Homo sapiens: one gene and its partners. The protein of the gene in region 3 purifies or fractionates together with the protein of the main gene of each other region. This does not show direct contact. Each region holds a gene or a part of one and is shown on either strand. Other genes may lie near its edges.

Region 1 (5,864 bases), on a different chromosome or scaffold from region 3:
GTTAAGGCCAGGAGTTCCAGACCAGCTTGGCCAACACAGCAAAACCCTGTCTCTACTAAAAATAGAAAAGTTGGAGCCGGGCACGGTGGCTCACCCCTGTAATCCCAGCACTTTGGGAGGCAAGGCGGGCAGATCACGAGGTCAGGAGATCGAGACCATCCTGGCTAACACGGTGAAACCCCGTTTCTACTAAAAATACAAAAAAAAAATTAGCCCGGCATGGTGGCGCATGCCTGTAGTCCCAGCTACTCGGGAGGCTGAGGCAGGAGAATGGCTTGAACCCAGGAGGCAGAGCTTGCAGTGAGCTGAGATCGCGCCACTGCACTCCAGCCTGGGCGACAGAGCAAGACTCTGTCTCAAAAAAAAAAAAAAAAAGTACAAAAATTAGTGGGGTGTGGTGGCACATGCCTATAATCCCAGCTACTTGGGAGGCTGAGGCAGGAGAATAGAATCACTTTAACCTGGGAGGCGGAGGTTGTAGTGAGCAGATATTGCACGACTGCATTCCAGTCTGGGCGACAGAGTGAGACACTCTCAAAAGAAAAAAAAATAAGACAGCTTTGGCTGCAATAAGAAAGAAAGAAGCTCAAGAAATTGCAGACTGCTGTAACATCGGCACTTGACAGGAGGCACCTGAGGTCAGAGGGCAGGTGCCCAGCCTAGCATACAAACAAAAGCCAGGGTTGGGACTAGAGTTGTTTGGTTTCCTAGCCTGGCATTCTACCCTCTGACCGGTTCCATCCTGCCAAGCCTTTTAAAAAAGAAGAGTGATGGACTAACAGTCCAAAACCTGACCTTAGGGTGACCTCAAGCATTAAGTGCTCCTGAAGCCACTTCCTTTAAGCCTTCCAATGATATCAAGACCCTTGCATGACTGAACCTCCAGACACCCCTGGTTGCCCTCGAGGCAGAAGGCACTCGCCAGTCTTCAAAGTAGAACTGAGAGGAGGGGGCTGGTGCATTTAGCAGCAGCAGCAGCAGCGAGCTGAGGCACCCTGCCAGAGGCTGCTCACACATTCTGATTAACCACCATGAACAAGCTTTTGGGGAGCGATTACTCCCTTTTCACAGATGAGAAATGAGAGAGAGGGAAAAGCGCAGAACCAGGGGACTCTAGGCTTCAGGGAAGTTTCCAATTGGGGGTCTCTGATGCCAAATTCTATGGCTTTCCTGCTTAGGTCCTCCCCCTTGTTTCCGGGTACTGGTCCCTGAAGGAAACAAGGTTTCTACCTGGTGCTTTCTATGTAGGTCAAATTCCATAAAAGCAACTCTCTGAGCCTTGCCCACTCTGAGCTGAGACAGCCCGGGCACAGGCTCAGAAACCTTTGGGCCACTTTGCTGCATTTGCTATAAGCCAAAGTTGGCAAACTATGGCAGCTAAGAATGAGTTTTACATTTTTAAGTAGCTGGGGAGAAAAAAAAGACAATGACTAATATTTTGTGATATGTAAGAATTATATTAAATTCACATTTCAGTGACCATGAATAAAGTTTTATTGGAACACAGCCACACTCATTTGTCTACAGCTGCTTTTGTACTGCAACAGCAAAGCTGAGTGGCAGGCCGAGAACTACATGTCCAACAAAGCTGACAATATTTACGCTCTATCTGGCCCTTTAGAAAAAAGTTGATCGGCCTCTGCTTTAAGCCCCACGTCCCCTGAGCTAGCTGCCCAGCATTCTCAAAGCCTTCCAGGCAAAACCACATCCTCCCTAAATAACCGAAAAGGTATGCATCCTATTATGGAATGTTAAATGTAAATGGCTCCTTGGCCATGTGTGGGTGTGGGGCCAGGATCTGGACCCTGGGGAAACTGACACCCCTGAGAAGATACACATTTGGTGGTGAGATGGGCAATAATTCAACTAAGAGAACATTAATTTGGTAAGATTGGGCACATGCAAAGTTCACTGTCACTCTCAGCAGACACATTTAAGTCCCAGCTCCTCCACTTGTGTGACCTTAAAAAAGTCCTTTCCTGGCTGGGCATGGTGGCTCACGCCTGTAATTCCAGCACTTTGGGAGGCTGAGGTGGGCGGATCACCTGAGGTCAGGAGTTCAAGACCAGCCTGACCAACATGGTGAAACCCCGTCTCTACTAAAAATACGAAAAATTAGCTGGGCGTGGGGGGCGCGCGCCTGTAATCCCAACTACTCGGGAGGCTGAGGCAGGAGAATCACTTGAACCCGGGAGGCAGAGGTTGCAGTGAGCCGAGATCGCGCCATTGCACTCCAGCTTGGGCAACAAGAGTGAAACTCCGTCTCAAAAAAAAGTCTCTTCCTCTAAGCTTCAGTTAATTCTCCATAAGAGAGGATCTTCTATGAATAAATGATATTGCTAAGGAAAGATTATGCCTGAATGCATGCTCCCAACACTCTTCTAGTCAATGGAAATTCAGCGATAAAACTATACCAAATCCCTGCCTATGGAACTTGATAGGTTAGTTGAAGGCTGGGGCAGAAAATAAATACATGTAATACATCAGGTGGTGAGTGGTATGAAGAAGGTGATGGGGCTGCTATTTCTTAATCATGGTGGGACATGCCTGTAATGAAGTATTATGCAGCTATTGGAAAGAATGAAACACATCTGTGTTTCACATAACATGTATGTGTTATGAAGAGTACCAGGGTAGATTGTTCAGGGGGGAAAAAAAGCAATAGGATGTACATATTGTGTAAGGAACAGGGAGTTAGTGAACTTGTATAGTGGCACTTGGTTGTATGTGCAGAGAGAAACACTGCCAGTATTTACCTCTAAGGGTTGGTTTGGTGAACAGAATGGGTTGCAAAGAACTATGCAGAAAGTGGGATCCAACTACACAAATATTCTATTTATAGGCATGTATCTACACATGCACAAAGAGAAGTCTTTAGGGTAAACACCAAACTGTCAAAACTAGAAGACACTCTTTCATTTATTATGCTTCTCTGTAGTTGGCTCTGTAACTTCTGAAGCTTTTTTTTAATCCAATTTTTTTTCCAGTCACATCTAAGAACTTTATTGGACACAGCTTGGATGCCAGGACCTGGTAGGCCCCACACACTGCCTGCTAGGCCCTGGACTGTCCAGGGCTGGAGTGAGGGTAGTTCATGCAAGGAAGTGTCAGACCACATGGTAACCCCACAATGCAACACTGTGGTTAGAGACTTTATATAGCTGGGAGATGGAGGGCTGCCCCACAGATGTATGAACAGGTCCAATCTTCCATAAATAAACCTACAGAAGAGAGAAAATTACACTGGAATTCATCCTTAGACGCAGAGTACCCTAGATGGGAGGGGGCATCCTCACTGGTCAGGGGGCCAGGATGGGTGATGAGGGGGCCCAGATATCCACAGCATGGGGCAGGCAGGGGCAAGGATGGGGTCAACAGATGATGGGCATTTGCACTAGGACACTGCATTCACAAGACCAACTACTGAAGGGATATGTGTCTCAGGCTGTTCATTCTGGAATAAGCAGGGGTGATCTTTATATCACATTCTGTGGCTGGTGGGCTCAAAGGCTACTTTGTGGAGAGAATGAGACCATGCAGTGAAAATGAGGATCAGGATCAAGCCCACAAATAGCCCGGGCTTCTAGGCAGCACTGTGTCCCCCACAGTGCTGATGACATAGCTGGCTGCCGGGCCACTCAGGCCCACACTCAGCCTAGCGCTTGGCTGGAGGAGATTCCCGTAGAGGCTGATGCAGTCGATCAGCGAGTTGGGGATAAGGACTTCCATCACCAGGTTGTAGATGGTGATGATGCCAGCCATGACCGCTGGGACACTGGACTTCAGGATCAGCTCCAGCCGCATAAGGGCCAGGGCCACGAGGCAGTGCTGCTCTAGGCTGTGCCACAGACAGCACACAGGGCTGTGGGATGGAGGCAAGGCGAGCCCAGAGCAGAATCTGTTTACCTGGGGCCAGAACCCTCTGGGAATAGCTTCTGCACAGCTGTGAGGGCCACACCCAAGTTATCACACGCAGCAGGGAGCTGAAGGCAGCCCCCACCTAGGGGCAGGAAGTCCTCAAGAAGAACTGCCACAGCTGGGTGATCAAGGAGCCCAGTGTAGCTGTTTGTTTCTTTCCTTGAACTGGGCCCTCCAGCCCAAGAGAGTCCACCTCTTCCTCCAGCAGAGGTGCTTATGGCTAGCTGGCCTGTCTGGGCTCCCACTGTGCTATGAAACCCAATCTGTGCTGCTCAGCACTCCCCAAGCCTGCTGCACAGACCACATGCTCCCCTGGAGCCTCAGTGCCGCTGACCCAGACAGCTAGCTCTCATCCCCAGTACAGCTGAGGACACAAGCTCCAACAAGAAGTGTGGCTGGCCTAAGGTCCAATGGTAGAGCTGTTTCTGATGGAGCCGTTTCCTCCCCACTCCCAAATGCCAGGGCAGGGGGAGATAAACTGGGCTAGGAGACATAGGCAGACTTCCTGTCCAGCAGAGGCCTCAGTAGCCAAAGGCTCCATCAGCTGAGGCCTGGCAAGAGCTCTCTCCCATTCCAGGGTGCAGAAGCCTCAGGGAGGCAAGTCAGTGTGGTCACAAAGAGAGGAGATGCTGTCTTCTTTCTGCCCAGGTTCAAGGCCTGGGAGCCCTGCTCAGTTACTGCAAAACCCTAATGTTTATGCATCAGCTACTGCCAGGCCTGGTGGCTGGAAGACAGAGCCTCAGGCTCCAGTCCACCCCTCCCGTGGAGAGAGGTAACAATTGGAGGCTTGTTAGGGTAGCCAGGGCTGGGCCTGCAGGCCTGGACACAGCCTCTCTGAGCCCATGAATCTGGTCAGGAGGCCTCCCAGCCTCCGCCATCATGGGGACGTCGGTTACCAGACTGCAGACTGAGTGAGCGGCTTTATCACCTTTATGCCCAGGAGTGAGGTGGGGGAAGGGGTGAGGTTGCAGGCCCCAAGCCAACACTGCACACTTTCCTCTTTGTTCCAGGCCTCCCCAGCTTTGCCAGTCTTGGGGAAGCAGGGAGCTGGATGGCTGTACCCTTGGTACTTGAGCAGAGCTCTGGGCCGACACCCCGTGACCAGGAGGCACTGGGCAAAGCTGAGCTCCTTGAAGTCACAAGCTGATTACGGGGGATTTGAGGCTGGCCCAGCTCCGGGGCAAATAGGGTCGAATCCCTGGATGGCTCGGTACTAGACAAGGATCATCTTGGGGCTGTTTACATCATTTGTACACCCAGACTGGCCTTACAAAGGGTCTTTCCACTTAAAATAGCCACTTCTCTAATTTAGGGCACGGGGCCAGTCTCACCACATCCACTGGGGGTAGCCAAGTCTCTATTTACTGAGAAGGAAACCAAGGCTCCAAGGAAAGCCACTTCTTCAAGGTCAGAGTTTAGTGGGAACATCTAGTGTTTTGTTTCCATTCACAGTAGAGTTTCAGTTGTCAAGTTACGTCTAATCCAACTTTCAGGCTCCTATGGCATGGCAAGTCCTGTGTCTGGGGATTCCTGCTCATTTGGGGTGGGTGGAGGATGGCACAGACAGGCATGTGGAGAAGAAAGCATCTTTAAAAAAAAAACACAGCTAGGCCAGGCGCGGTGGCTCACACCTGTAATCCCAGCACTTTGGGAGGCCGAGGTGGGCGGATCACCTGAGGTCTGGAGTTCGAGACCAGCTTGACCAACATGAAGAAACCCCATCTCTACTAAAAAAAAATACAAAAAAATTAGCCGGGCATGGTGGCACATGCCTGTAATCCCAGCTACTCGGGAGGCTGAGGCAGGAGAACCACTAGAACCTGGGAGGCGAAGGTTGTGGTGAGCTGAGATTGTGTCATGGCACTCCAGCCTGGGCAACAAGAGCGAAACTCCGTCTCAAAAATCAAAACAAAACACAGCTCCATAGAACGCCTCAAATCTTTTGT
Region 2 (4,704 bases), on a different chromosome or scaffold from region 3:
AAGTGAAAATTTTTCTCTCATCCATGACTAACCTCCAGCAACAGAACCCAGACCAAACCTGTAGGCCGACTCTGCAACTTGTAGAAGAACTGGTCGAGCTGAATCACCTGAGGCCTTCTGCTTTGCATGCACAGGAATCAGAGAGCAGGAAAACAGGTGACAGAAAAGAAGATAAAACAAAAATGACCATACATTAACTTTAAACATTACTCATTGGGTTCTAAATCCATGATACAACTAAAATGTCAAGGAAAAAAGTAGGAATGGATTTCATAAGTTCTTATTAATAAAAAGATTTTAGTGCTATTAATGTTTAAAACCAAATTTCAATATAATCAAAACCATCCTTTGACAAAAATGATGTTATAAGCCTATTTTCAAATTCTCATTAAAAAAAATGCACAGTTAAAAACATCACTGAGGCCAGGCACGGTGGCTCACGCCTGTAATCCCAGCACTTTGGGAGGCTGAGGCGGGCGGATTACCTGAGCACAGGAGTTCAAGACCAGCCTGGATAACATGGTGAAAGCCCATCTCTATAATATAACACAAAAATTAGACCAGCATGGTGGCATGTGCCTGTAGTCTCAGCTACTCAGGCTGAGGAGGGAGAATCACTTGAGCCCAGGGGGCAGAGGTTGCAGTGAGCTGAGATCACGCCACTGCACTTCAGCCTCGGCAACAGAGCAAGACTCTATCTCAAAAATAAAAATAGGTCGGGTACGGTGGCTCATGCCTGTAATCCCAGCACTTCAGGAGGCCGAGGTGGGTGGATCATGAGGTCAGGAGATTGAGACCATCCTGGCTAACATGGTGAAACCCCGTCTCTACTAAAAATACAAAAAAAAGAAAAAAATTAGCTGGGTGTGGTGGCAGGCGCCTGTAGTCCCAGCTACTTGGGAAGCTGAGGCAGGAGAATGGCGTGAACCCGTGAGGTGAAGCTTGCAGTGAGCCGAGATCGCGCCACTGCACTCCAGCCTGGGCAACAGAGTGAGACTGTATCAAAAAAATAAAATAAAATAAAGTAAATAAAGCAAATAAAAACATCAATGAGACATCATTTTTCATCAATCAAATTGGCAGGTTTTTGGTTTGTATGTATTTTTGTTTTTGTTTTAAGTGGCAATACCCAGCCTGGCAAAAGTTGATAACAAGCCTTCTGAAATTTGCCATTAAAGCAAGCATAAATAGAGAGATGTTTAGTAATATACACCCAAACCCTTAAAATGTACATAACCTCTGAAGTTAGAATAGGCTGGGTGCAGTGGCTCACACCTGTAATCCCAGCACTTTGGGAGGCCGAGGTGGGTGGATCACTTGAGGTCAGGAGTTCGAGACCAGCCTGACCACCATGGAGAAACCCCGTCTCTTCTAAAAATAAAAAATTAGCCGGACGTGGTGGCGCATGCCTGTAATCTCAGCTACTTGGGAGGCTGAGGCAGGAGAATCACTTGAACCTGGGAGGCGGAGGCTGCAGTGAGCCAAGATCGCGCCACTGCACTCCAGCCTGGGCAAGAAGAGTGAAACTCCGTCTCAAAAAGAAAAAAGTTAGGATAGAAGATAATCATGCATGTAACAAGCTACAAGAATGTAGCACTTAAAAAACATTTGTAGTACTTATTGGAAATTTCGATTATTTCCCAAATTTTTGCTCTTTAAACAAAAAGAACAAAAATTTGGGAAATATTCTAAATGTCCAATAACGGAGGACTATAGCCTTTAAAAATAATAACTTTAAAACAAAACCCTATCATTCAAAATGATACTGTAAAAGAATATTTGATATTAAATGTTCACAAGGAATTATAAAAGAAAACATAGGCTAAAAAGAGCATGGTAAGTAGATAGGTATTTGTCATATGATTCTTTGTACCTATTTAAATGTTTGACCTATTTCCTGGTAATTTTTTTAAAAACAATTTTTAAGACTATATACAAAATGATGTCACTTTTTATTAAAAATGCTTGTAAGAGGTTTACATATATATGCATATAAAATTAATACTAATATTTTGCCTCCCTACCACCCAGAGATACTCAAAACATTTACAGTAGCTAAAACTAGGTGGCTGTATTACAGTTGATCGTTACTTTTTCTCTTTTTTTGTCCATCTTTTCTAAATTCATACTTCAGGTCAGTCAGTCATTGTTTTCTGGTTCTTTTGACCTATTATCCTCACAGTGTTTTTGATGCCAGAACATTTCAGAGTGCTGCACTTCTCTGTCTGCATAAATAAAACAGTAATTTTATGTCACAGAGAGTTGTCAAATGAGGGTGACATATAGTCAGTGCTTAATAAATACCTGTTGAATGAATACATACATTCAATAAAATTTGTTTTTCAGAATCCATGATAATTAAAATCAGTGAACAATGAAAATAATCAGCAACCCCAGCTATCAACCCACTGAATTTTAGTTGCTGTCAATGTAACACAATTCTAATACAATGAGATCATTTGGAATCTCCTTCAAAGTCACTTAACTGAAAATAGCTTTACATAGAAATATGCCTCTTTAAGATACAAAACATTTCTTTTGCAAATTCTATGAGTTGTTTCCAACTGTAGCCCTATATAGATGGAAATCAATAGTACCTTCATTTTGACAGATGCATCCAAAAGAGAAGCAATATTTTATTTACAGGGATATAAATATGCAATACTTAGAAATGTTCTGGCATCAAAATAATGAGTGAAAATACTCTGAAAATTATAGAGGGTGGGGGGAGGAGGGACCTACCACCACCATTAATTCCTCTCCTAAAAGACAAATGAAATCCTAGACTTTTATTTAACTTTTCCAAAGCCAGAACTGTAGCATGTTCTTGAAATGAGACAAAACTCTGCTCCTTCACTCCTCTGTCCAGGATAAATGCTACAAGTGCTGCACAGTGCTGGACAGGCAGCGCTGTGCCCACAGGTGGACGACCTCCCTTGCTTGAATTTGTCGGGCCCACTAGGGTTCATGCAGTAAAAAGCCTATTCCAGGTAAGGCCATTGTGAATTGCTCTAAACCTCTAAGCGGCAGCGAATCATTTCCTGCTATAAATCTCATCAATCTGGTCTAACCCTTTCATGGCCAGTATCAACAAGCACCCATCATAAACTCTCAAAAGCTGCAAAGAGCTTAAAGGAAAAATTGTGGGAAGCCGCTGCCAGCTGAAGAGTAGGAGGGATCTAAAAAAAACTTCTCTGCTTCTCTTAATCCCCAAATTTCTACAATAGCTGGTGGCATACAGACGAAGAGATAATCATCTCCTAAGCAGTGTTAAAAATCAAAGGGAAGGGAGAGCAGTGTTGCTTCCACCTCTACACGTGATTATAGTTATTTCTCCTGCACTCAGAGAAATCGGCTTCCTCTTTTAAGCAAGGCCAGCTGGTTTTCCAGAGGTGCTCGTTAGAATTTACTGAGCACACACCCACTACTTTGACTTGCATGCTGCACACAAAACTCACCGCTGCATTTGGGTGGGAAAGAGCTAAAAGAAGGGGGCCCTGGCTCAAGGTCTGACAGTCCTAAAAGTGTAGCCTGCAGCAACCCATTGTGGTCACACTGGCGTCTCTGTACAAACCCAGAGCTCCATGCCAGAAACTGCGAAGTCTCACAGGATTCAGAGATGGCTCTGCCTAAAAGGAGAAATTTTTCTAAAAACGACACTCGCCTGTGAGTGGATTTATTTTACAAACACCATTTATTTTACTAACACATGCTATGAAGGCTTTTCTTCTCTAATCCTGATCTACAGAAAGCTGGGTAAGAGTTAAAGGAGAAAGTTCCATGTCTTAAGTTTCTGACTCCCACAACTTCAAGAGATTGGTTTCTGTTAACCATAAAATAAAATTTAGCATTCCTAAAATTGTTTCCATATAACTTATGAATCCTTTCACAGAGAAAATAGGTCTGAAAGCCTTTAAACTGTAACTCCAGACTAAACAAAATTATCTCATTTTGATATTCAGAAAAACGGAAGGCATGGCAGTTAGACGATGCGCTGATGAAGGGCTGCTCCACAGAGCAAAGACGGCTTTCATTTAGCAACGTGCAGCTGCCGACAGGCACAGTGACACCAACACGGGATTCTTTCGCTACATCTCTCAACATGAGACTTCAAGAAAGGAGAAAAGACCTCCTTCATGTTTTCGGAGCATTAGGCTTCTGGTGCAGTTAGGAAATCACTCCACCTTAGCAAGAAATGAGCAAATGCCAAATACCTGTTTATCACACCATTTCTAAGCAATTTCTCTTTACAGCCTTTAAAATTTATCGAGAGTTTTGGTGCAAAACAGAAAAATGGTTAAGTCAGATACCAATGCCGCAAAGGCAACTGCAAGTGGAACAGGGTTGGGGTATCCTGCTAAGGAAACCCCAGAATGCAAGTTTGCTCCTCTTTGCTCACCTGCCTCTGGGCCTCAGCCAAGTTAAAGGGCAGAGTTCCCTCTTCCAGAGGAGCAATCCGTTCAATGTCTGCTAAGGTCATACGTCTGTAGGGGAAAAACAAACACAAGCAACAAATATACCAATTTATTACAATTTACATTATAAAATTTAAAAACATCCCTTTTTTCATTTCTCATATTTCAGTATAGCCTTCAGTTTGGCTTCTTTTTCTCCTGATTGCTGCCCTCCTCCTAACCTCCTTTTATTAAGCTAATTCCAAAAAAAAAAAAAAAAAAGCCAACTTACCCCCTTGGCTCATATAAA
Region 3 (5,864 bases):
TTCATTAGTTAAAATGTCTGAGATTTTCTACAAAGCATTAAGGAAATAAAAATATGCCAAGATATTTCATCTAGGTACAACAAATGCCACAATATTTTAAGATGATCACTTCTACTTTCCACTTAAGCCACGGAACAGAAAAGACTGTTTGGAAATGATTTTCTGTTCCAGGACAGCCTCCCAACTCAAACATTCTTAATTAACTCCTTAATGAACTTCTATCATGAGGCACTAATTAGGGTTAAAGTGAAAACGTGGTGGATTTATCCAGTCAGTTAAAAGTTTAGCCCCCTTAGCTTACTTCAAATGTGAGTATATGAACAAAAGTTAAACCAGTTATCATAAATGATTATGAACAAGACATTAAAAAAACCAGTCAAGGATAAATCATCAGGATTAACTGATGGTAAATTTAGAGCTGGAATAGGAAACTTGGAGTAAACACATCTATTGAGCAGAGACTGTCTCAGAATTTGTTATGAAATAAGCTTAAGGATTCCTACAGGTTGCTCTAGGAGTTTACACCAAATGGTCCCTCACCCCACCGCTGAGAGAAGGCATCTACCCATCAGTAAAGGCACAGCTAATAAGAGGAAAAGCCAGTGAATCTCAGAATTCCACCTGAGATTACTCTAGGTCCCAACCAAAGTACATCCCTCCATAGCCGTAGGTTCCCAATCCATGAATTCAACCAACCTTGGATCGAAAATATTTGGAAACAAAAAATAATGAAACAATAAAAAAATTACACAAAATATACAGTATAACAATTATTTACACAGCCTTTATATTGAATTCAGTATTATAAGAAGTAATGCAGAGATGAGTTAAATATATGAAAAGGTGTGCATAGGTTATATGCAAGGACTATGCCATTTCATATCAGGGACTTGAGCATCTGCAGATTTTGGTATCCTGGGGGTCCTGGAACAAATCCCTTGAGGATACCGAGGGATGACTGTAACTCCTTCTCTGCCTGTCTCCCATTGGCAAGAAAAGACATACATGGGAGGACGACCCTCCATTTATATGTTATAAATTCTCCACTTATTTAAAAATGCTGGATGTAAGTCAGCTGCTTTCTGAAGGAAAAAAGAAAGCAGCTGAGAAAAGAAAATGGTGGAGAAATGTGTCCTGTGTTGGAGATATAACATCGGGTTGCCATAGTTAGGAATTCCAGATAAAGGGACTGGGAGGGCCAGATAAAGGGGGAAGGAGGGTCAACAGAAAATTGTTTCAGGAGCTGCCGATAATCATTAAGGAAAAGAGAGGATGACGTTATGTATTAAAATTTCTGTATCACAGGTGACAAAAATGAGGGTGTTCTCCTGGACATGTAGCTGGAAGTCCTATAAAATATATCTGCTCTGGTAGTATTTCTTAGTTAGAATTACAACTTTTGAATTTCAGATACAAAGTAGCAAGTATGCTTTTTAGGACTTTTAGTTAAAGAACAACGCCAGGCGTAGTGGCTCACGCCTGTAATCCCAGCACTTTGGAAGGCTGAGGTGGGCAGATCACCTGAGGTCAGGAGTTCGAGACCAGCCTGGCCAACATGGCGAAACCCCATCTCTACTAAAAATACAAAAAAAATTAGCCGAATGTTGTTGCAGTGAGGCAAGATTGTGCCATTGCACTCCAGCTGGGCGACAAGAGCAAAACGCCACCTCAAAGAAAAAAATAAAAATAAAAATAAACACCATCTCGCATGACTGTTTGAGATCCATCCACGTTCTTTAACAGAAAGGTCACTACAGGCACCTCAGACCCCTCCTTTTAGAACACAGTATACTTACTAAACTTTTATAAAAAATAGTTCCCCTTTTGGAAGACTATCTTTCATTGGAAGGAAATATTAAAAAATGCTAACTGGTTATTGATAAGCAGTATGATTATGGGTGACAAATATTTTTCTTTATACTTTACAATATTTTCCAAATATTCTGTATTGATCATGTGTATGGTTATTGTCAGAAAAAAAAAAAACCCAACTTTTCATACATGTAGGAAATTACGTTTTTCATTTCCTTCCCTTCTCTAACATTATAATCTAGAGAAGGGAAGGGAGACAGACTACTATAATAGTCTTTTAGGGTTTGATTCATGTTACCAAAAGTAATTCAACTTCCTTACCAAGGGACAATTTCTGTCTTCTTAAAACTTAATGCAACCAGCCGGGCATGGTGGCTCAAGCCTGTAAATCCCAGCACCTTGAGAGGCGGAGGTGGGCAGATAACTTGAGATCAGGAGATTGAGACCAGCCTGGCCAACATGGTGAAACCCCGTCTCTACTGAAAATACAAAAATTAGTCGGGCCTGATGGCATGTGCCTGTAATCTCAGCTACTTGGGAGGCTGAGGCAGGAGAATCGCTTGAACGCGGGAGGCAGAGGTTGCAGTGAGCTGAGATCACACCACTGCACTGTAGCCTAGGTGACAGAGTGAGACCTCGTCTTAAAAAAAAAAAAAAAAAAGCAATTATCTTAAAGACCAAGGTTAAAAGCATCATACCTGTTAGAATATCCAGGGTTGCAGCTTTTAAGCTCTGGTGATGAGTATTGGGCTGTTTTCGGTTTTTTATGTGCTGGACTAAATAATTTAGATTCTGAACTGATTGTAGGTGATATGTTTACTTTGCTGGATGGTTGAGTTATATCGTTTGTTGTCTTCTTGGAGGGGTGCTGTATATCATTCAAACAAACACTAGCAGGAGGAGAGTTTTGAAACTCCTCATCTAGTATCTGGTTTTGCTTTGTTTTTCTTTCCAAAGTACTGGATTTATTGCTAAAATCAGTCAAGACAAGAGTTGTAGTTCCAAATGCAGTTTTTCTGTTGATCTTGACTTCTGTATGAGGTTTTCCAAAAGTATTACACGGGTACTTCATTAAGTGGCTAAAGACAGTAGAATTTTCTTCACTCTTGAGCACTGAATCTGGAAGGAGAGAGAAGTAATTCTGCAATAGTCCCATAAATATAACATACTGATTATGTGAAACATCTTTTTATTTGATTAAAAAATTTACTTCACTTTATTACAGTGAACTAATATATAGAACTAATAACACAAAGTTAGCTCAGACAAGTCAGAATTAATCATCTTCTGGCTAGGAAATGAAATATTATGTAAAATGCAAAATTTCGACTTACAGAAACCCAGACATGGGTTTAACAAAGATTTATATTTGCTTTTTATGATGTTTAAGCATTTAAAGGTCACTCAGTTATCAGTTTTGCTAATATTAGGCAAAGCATTAAAAAGTGGTAGTTGAGAGATGATATCCCATAAAGCTTTAGGTCAGCAGTTAGAGACCTGTTTCTAGACTACTAGGAATGACAAGACAAAGTGAAAGGCTTATTTAAAATAAGTAAAGATGAATTACAAAGACTTAACATCTTCTTTTTTTTTTTTTGAAACGGAGTCTTGTTCTGTTGCCCAGGCTGGAGTGCAGTGGCGCGATCTCGGCTCACTGCAACCTCCGCCTCCCGGGTTCACGCCATTCTCCTGCCTCAAACTCCCGAGTAGCTGGGATTACGGGCACCCGCCAGCACGCCTGGCTAATTTTTTGTATTTTTAGTAGAGATGGGGTTTCACCATGTTAGCCAGGATGGTCTCGATCTCCTGACCTCATGATCCACCTGCCTCAGCCTCCCACAGTGCTGGGATTACAAGTGTGAGCCACCGCGACTGGCCAGACTTAACATCTATTAAATACAATGTTTCACAACAGAGTATCCTAGGATTTTGGAATCTGTACTATAATACATTCTATATTATCATTAAGATGTCTTTCTGACTCAGAAACATTAACAAGAAAATAGTTAATGAGACATATAAATGCATTTCAGAATGTTGAAATCAATGTGGCAACCTAAGATTGTGTTTTTCCATGGGCTCCGCCTCTGCTGAAGGACACTGAAGAGGGAGGGATGGAAACAGGAGATGCAGCACAGCAAAGCTGTGCAAGGGGTGATGTCTGCCTTTCTGGCCCAGGAAACAAAACACAATATGACAGTTGACACAATGCAGGGGTGCGTAAGTCAGGAATGAACTTTCTCATCTCTAATTGAAGAAAGAAATAACACTTTGAGAACACAATAGAAGCCGCTGCAATGAGATGGCTCTTAATCACAGGTTTCCTCTGAGGTTTTACATGCCCTAAATGCATGAAATCGTGAGCTATAAAGAGTTATTTTGAAGGGTTTCAATGAAATCAGTACAATTGTCTGGATACAGATTTTAATAGCACGGGGTAGAAGGGATAAAGAAGAGAAAAAATTCAGCATTTTTCTATTCCACCTGCAAAGAGATTCTTACAGAAATCCTCCCTTTCAATTTATGCAACACTTGGACTGAATAACAAACTCGAAAGTTGCTGAAATCTGCATAAAACAAAGCTTTATTGAATAATTCATTAGAAACAGTAGAGAACAGATGTGATCATCTCCATTTTTTTGAGATACAAAGGCACATACTGTTATAGCACAAACATGCTTTCCCTCCCTGTTCAAAAAAAATACTCAACAGAATATTAGCATGGTTTACATGTGAAAACTGGCAATTCCTTTAAACCTTTGAGAAAGAAATTTTATTTAGTTATGGAATATCAAGATGGAGCAAGATATATTCCTGACTTTGTATAATTAACCCTCTTAGAAATGTAACAAACTCAAAATCAAAATTCAGTCTTACCAATAGGCCTTGAGGTCAAGCAAGCATCACATGCCTTAGAAGAGGGCTTATTGATTAAAGTACACACCACACAGGTCCAGTGCTCTTCCGACTTCCGAGCCACGGAGTCCATAACATGATCCACCCTGCTAGATGTCCAACTGATTATAGTATTTCTAGTCGGTAGCTTGCTATAAGATAATTTTTAAAATTAATCATTGTTATTATTGCCTTGTTCTTGTCTGGATATTTTAGAAATGATTATAGAACCATTAATACCCCAATGCTATCTCTTTATTATTGCTTGGAAGTTAGTACTGTATCTTAGAGTCTTTTTTTTTTTTTTTTTTTTTTTTTTTTTTTTGTAGAGATGGGGTCTTGCTCTGTCATCCAGGTTGCAGCGTAGTGGCACCATTATAGTTCACTGCAGCCTCGAACTCCTGGACTCAAACAATCCTCCCACCTGAATCTCCTGAGTAGCTAGGACTACAGGTGCACATTGGTCTGCTTGGCTAATTTTTAAATTTTTAGTAGAGATGGAATGCTGTGTTGCCTAGGCTGTCTTGAACTCCTGGCCTCAAGTAATCTTCCTGCCTCAGCCTCCCAAAGCGCTGGGATTAAGGCATGAGCCACTGCACCTGGCCAGAGTAAAATGTTTTCACCTGGACCCCCCTTTAACAACTAATTGTTGTTAAAGTGAGAAACATCAAATAAAAGTTATTTAGAGTCAAATAATCGAGTAGCTTTTTTTTAAACCAACTAAAAATATTTGATATCACATTAGGAAGTATTTCTCAAATAATGTTTTAAGTAATTGGTACTTTTTTCCCAAACAAAATGAAAATACCTTTATTCAATTAAATTATGGGAAAATACACCTATGCAGAAATTAGAGGATTGAAAGATGTGAAAGTTTTATATTTACTTCATGTGCACAGAAAACTCAGGAAACTCTAGAATTTCTCTACAGTATCTGCTGAGCACTATGTAAATTCATTAATTCATAATGATGAAAAAAGATATCTCTTTGTGTTGTTTCCCTTCATGTAAGACTGTTTCATGGTGGATAGCCAATTAATAGATTAGCAAGCAAACAATAAAACCCTGATTTTTGGCCACAAATATAAATCATGATTCTCCATCTGAAGTCCTTCATTGACCATGTATTTTTACACAAAATGCCTTTATACGGCTGT
Region 4 (5,864 bases), on a different chromosome or scaffold from region 3:
GAGAAGTAGAGCTATTGGATTATCTTCAGCAATAGAACTCTATATATAATATTTCCTGATAAGTGGGTTTTTCTATCAATTATCGTAATAGAATCTGTAGTTTTCACCATATATCCATAACACCAAAACTTATAATCGTGAAGCAAAACTGGTGTAAAGTTATGCAAAGTCTAATCTAAAACTGAGAATTTACTCTTTATTCAACATAAAATTTTATATGTAGTTCCTTCTTCTGGATTAAAAACATTTCTGGGCAGGGTGCGGCGCTCATGCCTGTAATCCCAGCACTGTGGGAGGCTGAGGCGGGCGGATCACGAGGCCAGGAGATCGAGACCATCCTGGCTAACACGGTGAAACCCTGTCTCTACTAAAAATACAAAAAATTAGCCGGGTGCGGTGGCGGGCGCCTGTAGTCCCAGCTACTCAGGAGGCTGAGGCAGGAGAATGGCGTGAACCCAGGAGGTGGAGCTTGCAGTAAGCCAAGATAGCGCCACGGCACTTCGGACTGGGCGGAAAAAAAACATTTCTGACTCAAAAGATTAATGAATTAACCAATTCATATCTCAGCCGTTACTCTGAGCCACGTCTCTACACACCCACAGGGTGCCTGTAGTGCAAGAGGGCCTATTTACAGAACACACACTGAAAGTATAAAAGATACACACAGAAAGAGAACAAGATAACAACTCAATCTCCATAAATTAGTTCCCAATTGCCTTTTATATCCAACTAAACCCTTGGCACAAAGTATATACCATATTATAAATCACAACTAAACAAATAAACAGTCTCTAAAAGATCTTCCCCATTTATTGAATCTATTAATAAATGTCTCAATTTTCAGTTACAATTGGCTTAGACGTCAATAACGCACAGCTAGATTATGAATTTATGAGCGGCTTGAGGTGCCAGATAAATTACTCTGTACTTAGAGACGACAATAAATATCAACTTCTAGACTAAGCACACTGACTAGTATATAACAGAAATATTATAAATATGACAATATTACAAATGCTTACTAAATACCAAATGCTATGATAGTTGCTTTGACTATATTATTCAATTCTTACAACAATCTAGTACTTTTATCCCCTCTTATTTTTCTGAAGATGAAACAGCATTGAGAGGTTAAAATAACTCCCTAAAATATTTCAGCAAATACATGTCAGAGCCTAGATTTCAATCCAAGTTTAGGCCCTATACAAAGATTTGCTGAATGAATAAAAATGAATTAGGAGAGTAACTTGTTTTTTTAAAAGAAGTTCCTGCAACATACTAACATCCAAAAAAGTCTGGTCCAAACTAACCAGATATGCAATTGATACTAATAACACCTATTAACTCACAAACTAGGAACACTGGCAGAGATACAACTTTAAGGCTCAAAGATTTAATGACCTCAGGTCTTTTCATTCCAAGAGTAATATACCCCCAAAACAGATCAATTCAACTGGCAAGGCATACAGGGGATTAGACAGCAATAATCCAGATTCGAAAATGCTACCCAAAATCTGCTGTAATAACCCAATGTGTGGACTAACACTGTCAAAAAAGTTCACAACAAAAATTTCAGTTTAGCGACAGGGACAATAGTGGAATTAATGACAAAACAGATAAGTTTATGGGAGGAAGCTTGTTTTGGAATATGAGGGATTTGAGACTAACATGACATCCAAGTAGAAATGCTTACAAGGCAGTCAGATATTTAAGGTTTGAAACAAAAGACTAAAAATAAAGATTTGGGTATCATGTACATAGAGATAATAATAATTGAAGCTGTAAGAATGGATGAATTCTTCAAGAGAGTGAAGACAAAGATAAGTATGATAGGCCAAAGATTGAGGAAAAGAAAAAAAGAAGAATGAAAAGATGGGAAAGCACTAGGTCAAGAGAGCCCAGGAAGATAATTTAAAGGAAGAAAAACTCAAAGACTAACACCAGAAATTTCATTTACATTTATCTTCCACATTCTGAAAAACTCCCTAATAAGAAATAGTAGTGACAAACAGCACAGTGTTAGAACTCAACAGGCACTATTTGACTAATACTGGTTCCCTTCTGTCTCCTCCGCTCACCCGTTGCTACACCTCCACCAGCCAGAAGAGAAGTGGAAAGGTCATGTTCTTAACAGGCATCATGAAGCGATGTGCCAATAAATATGCTACAAGCAAGATATTTTCATGAAAAGTATGTCAAACTTCAAAACAAATGTATCTATAACCCTCCCAACCATTTTTGTTTTTCCTTTTTTTTGAGACAAGTTCTCACTGTGTCGTCCAGGCTGGAGTGCAGTGGCACAATCTCGGCTCACTGCAACCTCCCCGTCCTAGGCTCAAGCAATTCTCTGGCCTCAGCCCTCCAGGAGCGAGCCACTGCACCCGGCCTTGTTTTTCCTATTTAATTTACAAATCATAAGCATTTTTTCCTCTGCAAAGATTAAATAGACTTAACTAAACTCCATCCCTTATTCTGTTTTCAAAGGTACTCAAAATCACTGAGAAATTATTACAGGCCCTAGACAAAATAATTAGAAGATAAGGAAGTCCGGAAAAGAGAAATAGCTCCCGATAATCCTTATAAACTGTAACATGGACAGTAAGAAAGACAACCATTAGGACACTGGAAAGAATCTGACCTACAGAAAACCAAAGTTGACTAATTTGAATGCTCTAGGAAACAAGTGAATGGTTATCATAATGTATCTTAGTATTTGCAGACTATTTTAGCATTTATACATGATATGAAGATTGAACTTACTTAGTTCTTGAAAAAAATTACAGGTGTTCGAGAAAAGATTGGATAGCCACTTATCAGAGTTCTTCCAGCTACATTATTCTAAACTACTGCAGGTTGAGTATCCCTTGTTTAAAATGCTTGGAACTAGAAGTGTTTCAGACTGCAGACTTTTTCAGATTTTAAAATATTTGCATATACATAAGATACCCTGGGGATGGGGACCAAGTCTAAATAAGAAATTCATTTACGTCTCATACATACCTTATACACAACAACCTGAAGGTTATTTTTTGCAATATTTTAATAATTTTGTGCATGAAACAAAGTTCTGACTGCATTTTGACTGCAACCCATCTCACAAGGTCAGGTGGATTTTCCACTTATGGCGTCATGTCAGCACTCAAAAAGTTTCAGATTTTGAGCACTTCAAATTTCAGATTACGGATGCTATTCATCATTAGTGTCTCAACAAAAAAGCTGTTTAGTAGGTAAGGTAGTTTAAAAGGACATACACCAGCAAATTTCTGAAACCAAAAGATTTGGAAGTTTCCATTTCTAAGCATGAATCTAGTAAAGGAGGTAGAGAAGAAACAATTTGAAAACCTTATTTTTGGGATTACAAAAACAACTCTAGAACTAAAGGACTGCACGTGGCACATAATACACACTAATAAGTAAGTATCAGTTACACAAATCAACAAAAGTCAAAATAACAGAAAAAGGCAACCAATGTAAAAGGAGTTTTGTTCCTATAATACATGAGAGGTCCAAAGTCCAGATAGGGAAGAACAAGAACAGACTCACTGAAAAAGCTGAAGTCACCTGATAGGTCACCCTGAATGACACAATGAATGAATGAACGAACGAATGCTCAATGTTAAACATAAAACATCATGCGAAGAAAATTCATGCTAGATACTACAAACCCAGAAAAAGGATTTTTTGTCTCTAAAGGAAATTCAGTCTTGGGCCAGGCACGGTGGCTCACGCCTGTAATCCCAGTACTTCGGGAGGCCAAGGCAGGCGGATTCCTTGGGGTAAGGAGTACAAGACCAGCCTGGCCAACATGGTGAAACCCCATCTCTACTAAAACTACAAAAATTAGCCAGGCGTGGTAGTGCACGCGTGTAATCCCAACTACTCGTGGGGGCTGAGGCAGGAGAATCACTCGAACCCAGGAGTCGGAGGTTGCAGTGAGCCAAGATCGCGCCACTGCACTCCAGCCTGGGCAACAGAGTGAGATTCCATCTCAGAAAAAAAAAAAGGAAAATTCAGTCTTTACCAAGTTCAGATTGACGGGGTAATAAAATTTCAGTAACAGCTATCAATAAACAGCTGTGGAACTAAACAGAAAAAGAGGACAAGATTATAAGATTTGAAGGGGAAAAAACAACCAAATCTGTCTGTTGACTATTCTCTTTAACAAAATGTTGTTTTAGAAGTGTTGGGCTCCATGATACCTGGCTGTCCTAACTCTGGAGGCCTTGATGGCTTACCTCCTCCACTCTTCCTCTTTGTTCAACCTTCATCTTTCACCCTCATTTTTCCCTCCATTGTTTCTCCCTTTACCATTATATCAACTTGCACCTTTGTGCAAATGACTTCTAAATCATTATCTGTAATTATGAGCTCAGTTCTGTATCTCCAACAGTCTACAGGTCATTTTCTCATGATTGCTCCACTATCCCCTCAAACACAACGAATCTAAAATTGAATTTATCTGTAGGCCTATTCTTCACAAGCAATTTCCAAACCTGACTTTGCTATTTTTACCATTCTCCCTATAATCCAGGCTCAACCTCTTTAGAGTCATCTGACTATTGCCTCTCTCTTTGGTTCCCCATCTTTTCCCTGCCAATAAAGTTCCATTAATTCTTCTTTTCTCATTCTCATGCCCCAATTTTGGGCTTCAATCATTTCTGGACTATTACAATAATAACAATTTTAAAAAACTGTCCAATCTCACTGTCTCTCCAATCTTTTCCCATGCTAACCCATCTTCCACACACCAGATTCATCTTCTTCATTCATCCTAGCACGGTCTTATTTATAAATATTTAATAGCCACAACAGTGTAAAGGCAATCCAAAATCCTTAGCCTACCAATCAAATCCTCCACAATCTAACGCTAATATTTCCTTCCAACCTTATCTTCCTTGTTTCCCCAAACATGTCATAGCCAGTCATGTCTCCACCCTCTATTCACGTTATCCTCCACTCCTCTTGAGTACCCTCTACCTAAATCCTATCCATCCATTATAAAACATACTTTGGCTCTCTCAACTCACAGTGACTTCTTTCTCTCAATTTCCAAGAACATACATTATCTAAACAATCATCTGGAATTTATCACATTTTCTCAATCTGTGAAGTGTTTAGCTTTGTTTCTGTGTATATATGTGAGACAAGGTTTTGTCTTCCATTAAATAGATTGGACTCTCAGGGAAAGAGTCATGACTTATATTTCCTTGTATCCTCCACATGTAAATAAAGGTCCCCACCAAATGAAGCTATAGCAAGAGGCCAGAAGATGATTTAAAGAAAAAGAAAGCTACTAAACCCTCCCTATAACACCACTCATGTAATAAGGAGATCGAAAAGCAAAATAAAATCAAAAATATATGAAAACTGGATAAATATTAAAAGATAAATCAGACTTCTTAGAAGTTATAGAAATCCTTACTACAAGATATATTCTAATTCCTTCCACTTATCTCGTTTAATAAAATGTTTTAAAATCTATTACGCATCAACCTTCTTTACTATCTCTCAATATAAAGAGCATCCATAATGTGGTGAGACATTTCAAACAACCCACAATAGTCTTATTTCCTGGTCAGGGATGCTTACAACAATTCTGAAAGCTTTGGGAAGCTTGTTGTAAAACCCATACACGTGGAAAAATACAAATAAACAGAAATTTAGAGTAACTGAAATGCACGTTAATTTTAAACAATCTACATTAATTTTCCTTTGATTCAAGATGCGATTTTTGAATTGTATTATTTCTTTGAATGGTATTATTTTGTTTCCTTAATCTTAATCCCCAAAATTGAGCATATCTAACATTATTTCACCGAAGACATTGTGAAATCCTGTCCATATACATGCTCCCTGAAACCTTA

What was found.
Region 1: the proteins of NEIL3 (region 3) and SLC2A1 purify together in Homo sapiens (affinity purification with mass spectrometry; one large-scale study listed by BioGRID and IntAct). This does not show direct contact.
Region 2: the proteins of NEIL3 (region 3) and SLC25A13 purify together in Homo sapiens (affinity purification with mass spectrometry; one large-scale study listed by BioGRID and IntAct). This does not show direct contact.
Region 4: the proteins of NEIL3 (region 3) and ROCK1 purify together in Homo sapiens (affinity purification with mass spectrometry; one large-scale study listed by BioGRID and IntAct). This does not show direct contact.

The regions. Positions count from the first base shown.
Region 1 is NC_000001.11:42,948,710-42,954,573, forward strand, and holds part of SLC2A1 (solute carrier family 2, facilitated glucose transporter member 1), read right to left. Parts: intron 1-5,864. UniProt on the Homo sapiens protein: Facilitative glucose transporter, which is responsible for constitutive or basal glucose uptake. Has a very broad substrate specificity; can transport a wide range of aldoses including both pentoses and hexoses.
Region 2 is NC_000007.14:96,184,895-96,189,598, forward strand, and holds part of SLC25A13 (electrogenic aspartate/glutamate antiporter SLC25A13, mitochondrial), read right to left. Parts: coding exon 4,687-4,704; intron 4,485-4,686; coding exon 4,400-4,484; intron 121-4,399; coding exon of another isoform or gene 118-120; coding exon 33-117; intron 1-32. UniProt on the Homo sapiens protein: Mitochondrial electrogenic aspartate/glutamate antiporter that favors efflux of aspartate and entry of glutamate and proton within the mitochondria as part of the malate-aspartate shuttle.
Region 3 is NC_000004.12:177,350,375-177,356,238, reverse strand, and holds part of NEIL3 (endonuclease 8-like 3), read right to left. Parts: intron 4,860-5,864; coding exon 4,690-4,859; intron 2,932-4,689; coding exon 2,511-2,931; intron 1-2,510. UniProt on the Homo sapiens protein: DNA glycosylase which prefers single-stranded DNA (ssDNA), or partially ssDNA structures such as bubble and fork structures, to double-stranded DNA (dsDNA).
Region 4 is NC_000018.10:21,104,065-21,109,928, forward strand, and holds part of ROCK1 (rho-associated protein kinase 1), read right to left. Parts: intron 1-5,864. UniProt on the Homo sapiens protein: Protein kinase which is a key regulator of the actin cytoskeleton and cell polarity.